2 linked regions of the Homo sapiens genome follow. The protein of the gene in region 2 interacts with the protein of the main gene of each other region in a pairwise test. Each region holds a gene or a part of one and is shown on either strand. Other genes may lie near its edges.

Evidence for each region.
Region 1: the proteins of RMC1 (region 2) and C11orf52 interact in binary tests that used the Homo sapiens proteins (3 or more experiments, as listed by UniProt).

The regions. Positions count from the first base shown.
Region 1 is NC_000011.10:111,921,872-111,927,499, reverse strand, and holds the end of C11orf52 (uncharacterized protein C11orf52), read right to left. Parts: intron 3,798-5,628; exon of another isoform or gene 3,760-3,797; intron 3,175-3,759; coding exon 3,137-3,174; intron 1,848-3,136; coding exon 1,786-1,847; intron 1,541-1,785; coding exon 1,301-1,540; 3' UTR 629-1,300; downstream 1-628.
Region 2 is NC_000018.10:23,506,414-23,513,582, reverse strand, and holds part of RMC1 (regulator of MON1-CCZ1 complex), read right to left. Parts: exon of another isoform or gene 7,048-7,169; coding exon of another isoform or gene 6,941-7,047; intron 6,614-6,940; coding exon 6,529-6,613; intron 5,599-6,528; coding exon 5,542-5,598; intron 4,391-5,541; coding exon 4,304-4,390; intron 1-4,303. Other genes in the region: NPC1 (NPC intracellular cholesterol transporter 1), read left to right, coding at 6,941-7,047. UniProt on the Homo sapiens protein: Component of the CCZ1-MON1 RAB7A guanine exchange factor (GEF). Acts as a positive regulator of CCZ1-MON1A/B function necessary for endosomal/autophagic flux and efficient RAB7A localization.

The sequences.
Region 1 (5,628 bases), on a different chromosome or scaffold from region 2:
TTTTAGCCTCCTCTAACCCACTTCATCCTCGCCACCTCCGCGTGTCCCCAGTTTCGATGTGGATGATCAACTTGGGTAATATTTTTGTTACTCGCCACCTTTCAGCACCTACCTCTTAAATGATGGGTCCGTCTGGTTCAGCATCTCTGTCCCCAGCCCTCCTGAGCTCGGCCTGCCAGTGCTCTGGCTTTGCCGCGGTTTCCCGCTGCCATGGTGATGCGGGGGCCGGCCACAAGCCCCGCCCGACTCCAGCCAGCCAGAGCCAGCCCCTGCCGGCCTTGGTCCCGCCTCTGGCCCGCCGGATCCCGCCTCCTGCAGGCCCAGACCGCGCCCCCTGGACCCAGATCCCCCCCAACTGCCGTTCCGGATCCGCCTCACCAGGAGCATCCGACAAACAACCAATCACGGCATGGACACACCGCCCCAGGAACTGCGCCCTCTGCCAATGGTAGCCCGCCCCCTTTCTCCTAAACCCCACCCCCCTCCAGCTCCGCCTCCAGCCGCGGCCTGGGGGTGGGGCCGGAAGGCCTGTCTACTGGCTGGACTTTCGAACCGCCCTTAAAACTGGGCGGGATCCGCTGTCCTCGCAAGGAGCTTCGGGGCCCCGCCCCAGAAAACGCGCCAGGCATGTTTCTCAGGCCGTTTATTGATCCTAGCGGCCCCGCACCTGCGAGAGCCAACAGTCCCTCCGAGGGAAGTTTCCAGGCCTCACTGTGCTGTCGGTTATCACTGACTTGAGGTCCTGAAAGCGTTTCCTCCACGCCTCAGCCCCCTTCCCCCATTTGTCTGTTAAGGTCTGGAACCTGACTCAGCCACTGAGGAAATGGCCCAAGCCAGCCCTAGTGTCTGAATGTAAAAGCTCAGAATGCTTTTCCGGAGCACCTCCCCTTCAGCTTTGGAGTTTAAGGTGTGTGAAAAAGGATACCATTAATTAAAGTCCAACAAGATCAGCCCACGTGCTTATGGGCTAACTTTTTACCTGCTCTTTCTGCACTTTGCAAGAGCAGGAGCAACAATGGTGGGGTCGAAGACCTACCTCCCTGCACACTCCACCTAACCTCATGTGGATAGCTAAGTTTAGCTATCCACCCATAGCTAAACCAACTATTAACTCCAACCTAACAGTGGCAAGTAAGAGGCCAGGGGAGAAAATGGGACGCCCACAATTCCAGGGGCTTTGGAGTTCTTTAAGCTTAAAACGTGGACAACATCCCTGGGTTGCCACCCAATTCCCCAAAGCAGTAGGTTCTCCCCCACAGGTGTAGTGGTTAACGATGGACTGGGCCTTCCTCCCAAGCGCTCACACCAGGGTCCCGTTCTTGCTGTCATAGCGAGGTGTGGCCTGGGGGAAGCGAAGGGTCGCATACTCTGTAGCGTTTTCTAAATGCACGTGTTTCACTTCCCGGGCATGGGGACGGCTGCACACTTGAATGTCAGCATAATGTAAGTTGCTGTCTTCCGACATGAGGCCTGGACTCCTCTCTTGAGACCCTTGCTGCTGTAACACCCGTTCATACGTATGTCCTGTTGTTTCATGGCCCTGCGAGGAATGGATAGCATTAAGGGAGATTCATGGCTTGGTTTTGCCCCTCACCTCCAATGCAGGGGCAGGTCAACTGATGTCCCTTCGCTTTGCTCCTTTGAGCAAAGGACAGACAGAGGAGGACAGACAGAGCCAGCAAATTCTACAGGTGACTGAAATGTGTCTGTTGCAGTGCAAAAGAGCTGACTACTGGGATCCCATGTCCGAGCAGCCCCAGAGAGGGGACAGAGACCTGTCATTACCTTTGGGAGATTCTGCTGCAGCTGTTGTGGCTGCGGCTTCAGTGTCCGTCTTGTTTGGCTTCCTGAGGGGAAGAAATCCAACTTAAGTTTATTCTCTCTTCCCTGTCTCTACTGAGATTGCCTTCTTCAAATCACTATTAAACTATTAACGGCAGGCTTCTGTCTAATCCCCCTGCCTCCATTCTCACTTCTTTCATGTCTACTAGTGCTAAATCCAAACTCCTTAGCAGGGTTTACAATCTGGCCCTTTCACAATCTGGCCATAATATCTTCCATCCTCATTTTTCACTAGCCCCTAACAAGTTCAACAAGAGAACCCATTGTGTGCCAGGCTCTGTGCCATGTTCTGGGGGTAGAAGGATGAGTAAGCTGTTTCCTCTACCTCAGGGGGCTTACAGCCTGCTAGGGGAGACAAATAAATAAAAATAAGTAAACACACTTACAATGCAAGGTGGGAAGTGCTCAGCTATACCAATCAGCCACTTTGAATCAGGTCAGTCTCTTTTTTTTTTTTTCATGAGCTGATTTATCTGCCTAAAACACCTTCTCCCTCCTCTGCTGACTTGTGAACTTTGCTTTTATTTATTTATTTAGAGACAGAGTCTCACTCTTGCCTAGGCTGGAGTGCAGTGGCGCGATCTCGACTCACTGCAACCTCCATCTCCTGGGTTCAAGCAATTCTCGTGCCTTGGCCTCCCAAGTAGCTGGTACTACAGGCGCATACCACTATGCCCAGCTAGTTTTTCTCTTTTTAGTAGAGATGGGGTTTCACCATGTTGACCAGGCTGGTCCCAAACTCCTGATCTCAAGTGATCCGCCCCACCTTGGCCTCCCAAAGTGCTGGGATTACAGACGTGAGGCACTACGCCTGGCCCTTTGCTATTATTTCTTTGACATTTCGACATCAGTGTCTTCTCTCAATTCTCCCACAGCATGAGTACACATCTATTACAGCACCAGTGATGATATTACAACTGTTTGTTTATATGAATTTATCTCTTAAATTTGATTTTCAGCTCTTCCAGGGCTGAGATCATGTGTCTTTCCTCTTGTGCCTCTCTGCCTCCTTGGGACCCACACAGGTCCTGACGTAGAATGTAAGTGCTGAGTAAATATTTGCTAGATGAATGAAAGAATGAACAACCAACCCTGCCACTCTGAAATAATGGAAAGGATAAGATCCAGAGGTTCAGAACTAGTCTTGAATGCAGCAACCTGGATTCTCTTTGGTGTGCTGTCTCCCTTTATCCTTTCATTCCTTTTCTACCCTTCTGCCCTTTCCAAAGATTGGAGTTCTATTGTCTTCTCTAATTTGCCTCCCCCAGATTCCCTCCCCCAGCCCCAAAGTTACCTGTTTTCTTTTTCTTCTGGAAAGTTGATGGGCAGCTCCTGTAATAGGAAAAACAGATCACCCATGTGCAAGAGCCCTGGCCTCTGCCTTCCCTCCATCATCATTTGCTCTGTGGTCTCCTTAACATTCTGATGAGCTTCCCCTACCTCCCTCTAACAAAGATTCACCCTGAGCCAGGTTCAGTCCCAAAACATTAGTCAAGGGTACCACACCTCTCCCACATGGATGGTTCTGGAAGGTGGAGTAGTACAACTGACATAACCAGACCCAAAATACAGCCTCAGGCAACCAGGCACTACATGCCAGGGATGTATCTGGCTTGAGAGCTATTCTGGGATTGTCTAACAGGCTAATCCCAGCAGAGGGTGAGGGAAATCTGTCAAATGATGGAATATTCTTGGATCCAGAGACCCTCTTGCCTCTTCTTCAGTGCTTTTTTTTTTCCTGGGGTCTTTACCAATCTGGGACTTTTATTCTGGGAGTCATGGAAGTTGCCACAACCAGGGCTAACTAATTACAGCCCCTCAAGGCCCTTTCTTAACAAGTGACCTCCCTCCCTGCTTCCTTGTCCTTGTTTTTAATTAACAGAGAAAGTGAGAGATGTTTAACCTTTAACATCCTTTAGAGAACTTTGTCTACAGAACAGGGAGCACTGAATTTGGTGAGTGACTCAGCTATCCTGCCCTCACTGTAGGGCAGACCTCTTATATTTATTTCTGAGCCCCTGGGGTCCCCAATGGCGCCCGTGTGTCTACGTGATTGTTAACTGTTTGATGCCAGAGAGACAACACTGACTGAGGAAATAGGCTAAATAGTTTGGGGCTTACTCCGGATTCTTTTTCTTGCTTTCTTGCTAGTACATTTCCAACTCTTGCCAGAACCAACCCTGTTTGTCTGCCTGATCTCTCATCTCCTGGGAGGTTTCCTTCTTTGCTAATTTGAGAGGGCGAGAGAGAGAAGACTGACTTCTAAATCATGAGGACTACTGTGGGGAAAAAGTCAGGATTTTTCCACACATATTTGACAGAGGTTTCTGTTTTGATGTGATTTTTGGTTTTGCTACAGCTTGCTCAGTTGACAGCAGTTGAGTCTCCAGCCAAACTCTACAGGTGGTTCAGAAGAAAAACTACTCCTGTGTTTTTCTACTTCTTCTGCCACTTCAGCTCTTGCTTTATGTTACTGCTGCTCAGTCAGCCTTATCCTAAGAACGAGATAATCTTCTAATTCTTTGCCACTTGTTACTACTCTTTACCTACTTATTTTTATTTAAATGGATACAGAAAATATTAGTCCTAAAATACATAGACTAGGGCTATCCAGTGTTAGTGAACAGAGCCTGTTCTCAAGTTAGATATTGTGCAATGCCTGGACACAACCCAAATGGAGTGAGTATTCATTTAGATACACAGGCGATGGGATTTTATTTTTAGATTTAAGGAAACTAAGTGGGCATTCTTCTACAGTGGTAATAGAAATAAAAATCTGTGCAATCCTCCTAGAATGCAATTGGCAATAAGTATAAAAATCCTTAAACATAAATGTGTATACCCTCTGATGTAGCAATTCCATATCCTAAGAAATAATTATACATGTACAAATATGGATATTCATTATAACATTATTTAAATTGCAAAAAATAGGAAATACTCTGAAGGTCCATGATTTGGTAACTGACTAAAGAAATGGCATATGCAATTAATGGAAAATATGTAGCCACTTCATAAAGAATGTTGGAAGAACACCGAACATCATGGAAAATTTTACTTTTTATTAAGTTAGTAAAAAGGTATGTTTTGGAATAAAAACTGTGCACATTTAAAAAATATATGGAAATACACTAAAATGTTCCCATCATCTCTGGGTGCTTTATTTATGGTGCTTTTTATTTTCTGCTCGTTGCAGAAGTTAAATTTTCTGCAATGAATGATTATTACCTTTGTAATCAGAAACAATAACAATAAAGAATATTTTAAAATAAAAATATCTTCAATTGCCATAATATCTTTAAGCCTCTGGAGGTTTATTGAGATAACAAAAAATAGAGAACAAAGTTTTATTCAATCCTACTAGTATTTGAAGAGGAAAAAAAGATTTTGGTTAGACTATTTGGTATAGTGTCTCTAGAATGGGCTCTAGAGTCAGACTGATGAGGTCAGAATAGCTGTGAGAACTTCAGCAAATTTTTAACTTCTCTGGGCTTCTGTTTTCTTATTAATAAAATGAGGTATGATAGGCCAGGTGCGGTGGCTCACGCCTGTAATGCCAACACTTTGGGAAGCCAAGGTGAGTGGATCATTTGAGGTCAGGAGTTCAAGACCAGCCTGGCCAACAGGTGAAACCCCGTCTCTGCTAAAAATACAAAAATTAGCTGGGCGTGGTGGCACGCACCTGTAATGCCAGCTACTAGGGAGACTGAGGCATGAGAATCGCTTACACCTGGGAGGCTAAGGTTGCAGCGAGCCAAGATTGTGCCACTGCACTCCATACTGGGA
Region 2 (7,169 bases):
ATCTGCTCCAGCAATCTCACTCTGGGTATAAATCTAAAAGAACTGAAAACGGGATCTTGAAGCGGTATCTGCATACCTGTATTGACAGCAGCACTATTCACAATGGCCAAGAGGCAGAAGCAACCCAAATGTCCCTCAACAGATGAATGGATAAGCAAAATGTGGTGTATACGCTCAGTGCGGTATTATCAGTCTTAAAAAGGAAACCCTATCACATGCTATGGCATGGGGGAACCTGTAGGAAATTATGGTAGATGAAATAAGCCAGTCACAAAGGGACAAATACTGTATAATTTCACTTATATGAAGTATAAAAGGTAATCAAATTCGGCCGGACACAGTGGCTCACGCCTGTAATCCCAGCACTTTGGGAGGCTGAGGTGAGTGGATCACCTGAAGTCAGGAGTTCAAGACCAGCTTGGCCAACATGGTGAAATCCCATCTCTACCAAAAATACAAAAATTAGCCAGGCGTGGTGGCGCACACCTGTAATCCCAGCTATTCAGGAAGCTGAGACAGGAGAATCGCCTGAACCCAGGAGACAGAGGTTGCAGTGAGCTGAGATCACGCCACTGCACTCCAGCCTGGGCAACAGAGCAAGACTCCATCTTAAAAAAAAAGGAGTCAAATTCATAGAAACAGAAAGTAAAATAGAGATTGCTGGGGCTGCAGGGAAGGGATAAGGGGAGTTGTTTACTGGATAGTTTTGGTTTCACAAGATGAAAAAAGTTCTGGAGCTATTTCATAACAATGTGAATGAATATACTTAACACTACTGAACTGAACACTTAAAAACAGTTAAGATAATAAATGTTGTATGTTTTTTTACCACAGTAAAAAAAATATTTTTGACCACACACAGTGGCTCATGCCCATAAATCCCAGCACTCTGGGAGGCCAAGGCAGAAGAATGGCTTGAACCTAGGAGTTCAAGACCAGTCTAGGCAACACAGCAAGACCTCATCTCTACAAAAAAAAAAAAAGGAAAAAAAAATTAAGTTGGGCGTGCTGGCACACACCTGTAGTTCCAGCTACTCAGGAAGCTGAGGTGGGAGGACTACGTGAGGCTAGGAGGTCGAGGCTGCAGTGAGCCGTGATTGTGCCACTGTACTCCAGCCTGGGTGACAGAGATCCTGTCTCAAAATAATTATTACAAAATAAAAAAATTTTAAGAGGAAGTTAACAAAATACAAATGGACAATATACAAATGAAAAGATGCTTACTTCCCTAGTAATGTAAAATGCAAATTAAAATGTCTTTCGGCCAGGCATGGTGGCTCACGCCTGTAATCCCAGCACTTTAGGGGGCCGAGATAGGTGGATTATTTGAGGCCAGGGGTTCAAGACCAGCCTGGCCAACATGGTGAAACCCCACCTCTTCTAAAAATACAAAAATTAGCCAGGCGTGGTGCTGGGCGCCTGTAGACCCAGCTACTTGGGAGGCTGAGGCAGGAGAATTGCTTGAACCCAGGAGGTGGAGGTTGCCGTGAGCCGAGATCGCACCATTGCACTCCAGCCTGGGCGACGGAGTGAGACTCTGTCTCAGAAAAAAAAAAAAAAAAAAAAGTCTTTCTACCTCTCAGGTTGGCAAATGTCTATAGACTGATAATATCCAGTCCTCCTAAAGGTATGAAAAGCAGAAGTTCCTATATTGCTAGTGAAAATACACATGTCTAGAAGAAATTTGGCGATACTGGTTCAGCTTTTCAGATGTTCGTACCTATACTGCAACTCTCCCTCTAATATAAAGAAGTGTGTACAAGCATGTTACTGAAGGGTTATTTGTAATCACAAAAAAATGGAAAACCAGCCAATGTCCAATAACAAGAAAATTTTTAAACTGCAGTCCATCCATACAGTGGAATACTACCCAGTCAGAATAAAATATAGAAAGATGTCCAAGATACACTTTGGACAAAAAAAAAAAAAGCTAGCTGCAAAAGTTTATATACAACATTCCCCTTTTTGTTAAAAAGAAGTTTGTATTTATTTTTAAAAATAGAGGAATATGCACCAAACTGTTCATAATAATTATTTATCGGGATTATAGGGAACATTTGCTTTCCATATTACATATCTTGCAATGTTTGAATGTTTTTTGTTTTAACTTTTAGGTTCAGGGATAGATGTGAAGGTTTGTTACATACGTAAACTCATGTCACGGGGTTTGTGGTACAGATTATTTCATCACCCAGGTATTAAGTCCAGTACCCAATAGTTATCTTTTCTGCTCCTCTCCCTCCTCCCACCCTCCCCTGCTCAAGTAGCCCCCCGTGTCTGTTGTTTCCTTCTTTGCATTCATAACTTACATTTAGCTCCCACTTAGAAGTGAGATCATGTGGTATTTGGTTTTCTGTTCCTGTGTTAGTTTGCTAAGGATGATGGCCTCCAGCTCCATCCATGTTCCCACAAAAGACATGATCTTGTTCATTTTTATGGCTGCATAGTATTCCATGGTATATATGTACCACATTTTCTTTATCCAATCTGTCACTGATGGGCATTTAGGATGATTCCATGTCTTTGCCATTGTGAACAGTGCTGCAATGAACATTCACGTGCATGTGCCTTTATGGTAGAATAATTTATATTCCTCTGCATATTACACCCAGTAATGGGGCTGCTAGGTCAAACAGTAGTTCTGCTTTTAGCTCTCTGAGGAATCGCCATACTGTTTTCCACAAAGGTTGAACTAATTTACACTCCCAGCAATAGTGCATAAGGGTTCCCTTTTCTCCACAACCTTGCCAGTATCTGTTATTCTTTGACTTTTTTATAATGGCTATGCTGACTAGTGTGAGATAGTTTCTCATTGTGGTTTTGATTTGCATTTCTCTAATGATCAGTGATGTTGAGCTCTTTTATGTTTGTTGGTCGCATGTGTGTCTTCTTTTAAAAAGTGTCTGCTCATGTCCTTTGCCCACTTTTTTTTTTTTGAGACGGAGTCTCGCTCTGTTGCCCAGGCTGGAGTGCAGTGGCACCATCTCAGCTCACTACAAGCTCCGCCTTCCAGGTTCAAGCAATTCCCTGGCCTCAGCCTCCCTAGTAGCTGGGATTACAGGTGCCTGCCACCAACCTGGCTAATTTTTGTATTTTTAATAGAGACAGGGTTTCGTCATGTTGGCCATGCTGGTCTCGAACTCCTGACCTCAGGTGATCTGCCCACCTCGGTCTCCCAAAGTGCTGGGATTACAGGTGTGAGCCACTGTACCTGGCCTTTGCCCACTTTTTAATGTTGTTGTGTTTTTGTTTTTTTTTTTGAGATGGGGTCTCACTGTCATCCAGGCTGGAGTGCAGTGCTGTGATCTTGGCTCACTGCAACCTCCTGCCTCCCAGGCTCAAGCAATCCTCCCACTTCAGCCTCCCAAGTAGCTGGGACTACAGGCGCACACCACCATGCCTGACTAACATTTTGTATTTTTTATAGAGATGGGATTTCATCATGTTGGCCTGGCTGGTCTCAGACTCCTGGACTCAAGCCATCCACCCACCTTGGCCTTCCAAAGAGCTGGAATTACAGGCATGGGCCACCAAGCCCTTTTTCTTTTCTTTTTTTTTTTTTTAATTTATTACTTGCAATTATAAAAAAAAAAAAAAAGAATAAAATCCCCAGCAAGAGACTAAAGCTGAGTGGCCAAGGCAGGAGTTGAGGTTAGGAGTTTGACACCAGCCTGGGCAACATAGCAAGACTTCGTCTCTACAAAAAAGTTTAAAAATTAGCCAGGGCCGGGCGCAGTGGCTCACGCCTGTAATCCCAGCACTTTGGGAGGCCGAGGCGGGTGGATCACCTGAGGTCGGGAGTTCGAGACCAGTCTCAACATGGAGAAATCCCGTCTCTACTAAAAATACAAAATTACCCGGGCATGGTGATGCATGCCTGTAATCCCATCTACTCACGAGGCTGAGACAGGAGAATCGCTTGAACCTGGGAGGCGGAGGTTGCGGTGAGCCGAGATCGCGCCATTGCACTCCACCAGCCTGGGCAACAAGAGCGAAACTCCGTCTCAAAAATAAAATAAAATAAAATAAAATAATAAAAAGAAAAATTAGCCAGGCATGGTGGTACATGCCTGTAGTCCCACCTACTCAGGAGACTGAGGCAGGAGGATTGCTTGAGCCCAGGAGTTTGAGATTACAGTGAGCCATGATGGTGCCACTGCACTGCAGCCTGGGCAACAGAGCAAGACTCCATCTCTAGAAAATGTTTAAAATATATATATATATATTCAGTACTGAATTCAAAAGGCTGCCAGAATGCTATCACTGAACTTTAACCAACAAACATAAATGATAAACATAATACCTGGTAAAATTCGATTCCTTGATCTGTTATGAAGACAATTTCAGTTGAACTAGTCCAGCAGAATCCTAGAATGTTGGCATTCTTAGTCTAAGAAAAATTTTTTAAAAATATTTTTAATTAATAAGAAAAAACACATATAACTCTCTTCAAAAGCTTCACAAACTCTGCAGTTTGTCATTCTTTAATGAACGTTCCCCGGAATGTTTACTAATTAACAAAACAAATTTTCTTTTAAATACAATGTTCCCTGATTTTTGCCCATAACTCTTCATTCAAGAACCTGAATCCTAATTCCTTCTACTAAACAGAACAGGAGAAGTCTGTGTTTTGTAGAAAAGTAACTGACCAGAGCTCACAGACAGCAGCTTCTACCTGCAGGAATCACCATACTGCCAACATTCTTAGTCACCCACGTTATAAAAATGGTTATTAAAAATGTACAAAGGCCTAAGGGTCTTTAGTGAGTGTTGACTAAAATGGGTTGAGGACCCTGAGACACACACCCGACTCGCTTGAGGGCAGACAGGTTTGAGAAGGGCCGGGCTGAGGGTCTCTTCACACGGGGCCACTGCAGGGCAGGCAGGACAGTGGTGGGGATGCACCTCTCCTCACCAAAGAGTCCGCCCTGAACTCCATTGAGCAAAACAGTCACAAAAATGCAGAAAGCCCTACCCCAACCACTAGCAGCTTCTGTCAGCGCCCAAGGTGCCACACTGCCAATTTTAGCTCAGCTCCCTCTAGCCTAGTTTACTACACCCAGCAAATCTCATTAATGTGGATTAGAATCAACACCTAGGAGAAGAAAGAAAGAGTAAGGACAAGACAAAGACAACAAATTGAGGAAAGGAAACTTCAGGAAACAGAAAAAGAAACTCCTCACCAGAAACCTCCACTCCAGGTGGCTGTGAGGCATCCCAGGGCCCAGACCCAGATGTGCTGTCAGCCCAGTGAGGAGAAAAAGGGCAAGACAGACGACAGCCCCAAGGGCTAGCACTACTGGGTGTTCACCACGCATCATCCATTGAACCCTCCCCCTCCAAAGGAACAAGCTTTCAAACTTAGAAAACTGTTCAGTGTCACAAAGCAAACACCCCGCCTGACTCCAGTTTGGGAATCAACATGAGGGACAGTCTGACTTCAAGTCTGTGCTCCCTGCGACCCCAATGCCCCGCTCTCCACTACATAACCCAGCTCAACACCACTGACACCAGCAGCTGAGAAAGGGCCTGGGGTCATACCTTGCACTCCTGTGTGTATTCCAGCTGGGAATTATCAGGGATAAAATTACAAAAATCCTGAAAGGAAAAACACACAGACACACACAAATTTGGATTAGGCAGCATACTGCCAACCTACGTTGGCATACTACAAGACAAGAAAAATAAATATTAACTTAAAAAGTGACCAGAAAATAACTGAAGACAACCAAAACACAGGAAAGATAAAAAGACCAATTCGGATCATCTGTCTCAACAGCAGCAGGCTTACGATTCAATTTTTTTTAAGTTAATACAAATATTCAGTTACAGTTTAGTAACTCCTTTCAAAAATTCATTCCTCAAGCAGCTGATGTCAGAGAAATGTGTTGCTGCACTAAGAGGCTTCCCCAAGACTTTAACACTTAAAACTGATGGAAGAAACTAACAGAGGATTCTGCCTGTTTCTAACAGCCTTCCCTCTACTCTACAAACGGCAATGGTGAACATTTACACGGGCTAAAGTGCCTGTAGGCTGCTTCAACTTGGAATATCTGCTCCTATCAGATCTAGCACTCAGAAATGAGAGATGAAAAGGCTAATTCACAAAGTAGCCAAAAATACCTCACATATTCTATGCTGCTATCAAGCAATACAAAAGACACATGAAGTTCCAAATTATTTTTTAACAATTTTTAAGGGAGACTGAGGCGAGAGAATCACTTGAGCCTGAGAGATCGAGGCTGCAGTGAGCCGAGATCACATCACTGCACTCCAGCCTGGGCAACAAAGGAAGACTGGCTCAAAAAAAAATTTTTAATTTAATTTAAAAATCAAACTAAGGTCATTTTTTTAACCCACTCAAATGTCTTTTTCGTTTTTGAAGGCTCTAATACAATGCAACATAACTATACCTTTCACAACAGTAAGATAATAAAAGTTTCCTTTAACACTGAAAATTTGCGATTCCTTCTCTTCCAAATGTATTTCTAATGCCCTTTAATGCTGTATTTTAAAGATAAGTCTTACCACAGTCTTTGAGGTCCTCTGAACAGCCAATATCTTATTTTCTAAGGAAAACTTAATGCACTTCACTTCTCCTTTGTCATCCATTCTTTAAGAAGAAAGATTGTGTTAGTAGTTAAATAACCGAATTCTAGCTACTACCATTTATTGAAAAGGCAAAAGACACAATCTATATTCAGGAGGCAGCAAATTCTAGTCTAAAATTAAAATTATGTTTCGGAAGCCATCAGTAGGACCTCTTTTCAAACTACCAAATCCAACTGGAAAGAACTTGCTGGGAAACTTACAGTATTATGGGTAACAAGTGATTGAAGAATTCAGATCACACACACATATCACCTGAGAATTGTTCCAACATAAATAACTATAGACCCGCTCAGGAGCCTTCTCCGTAACTGCTGTTTCTCTCTCACAGCAAAGCTTCTGGAAAGAACTATCTACTTGTGCATCTCACAGCACATTCATTATGCAACCCAGATGGCTCCACTACAGTGTCTCATGACCGCCTCAGACAGATGTTAAAAAGTGAACTCAGCTGGGCACAGCGGCCTACACCTGTAATCCCAGCACTGTGAGAGGATGAAGCAGGAGGATCACAGGAATTCGAGACCAGCCTCAGCAACACAGTGAGACCCCGTCTCTAT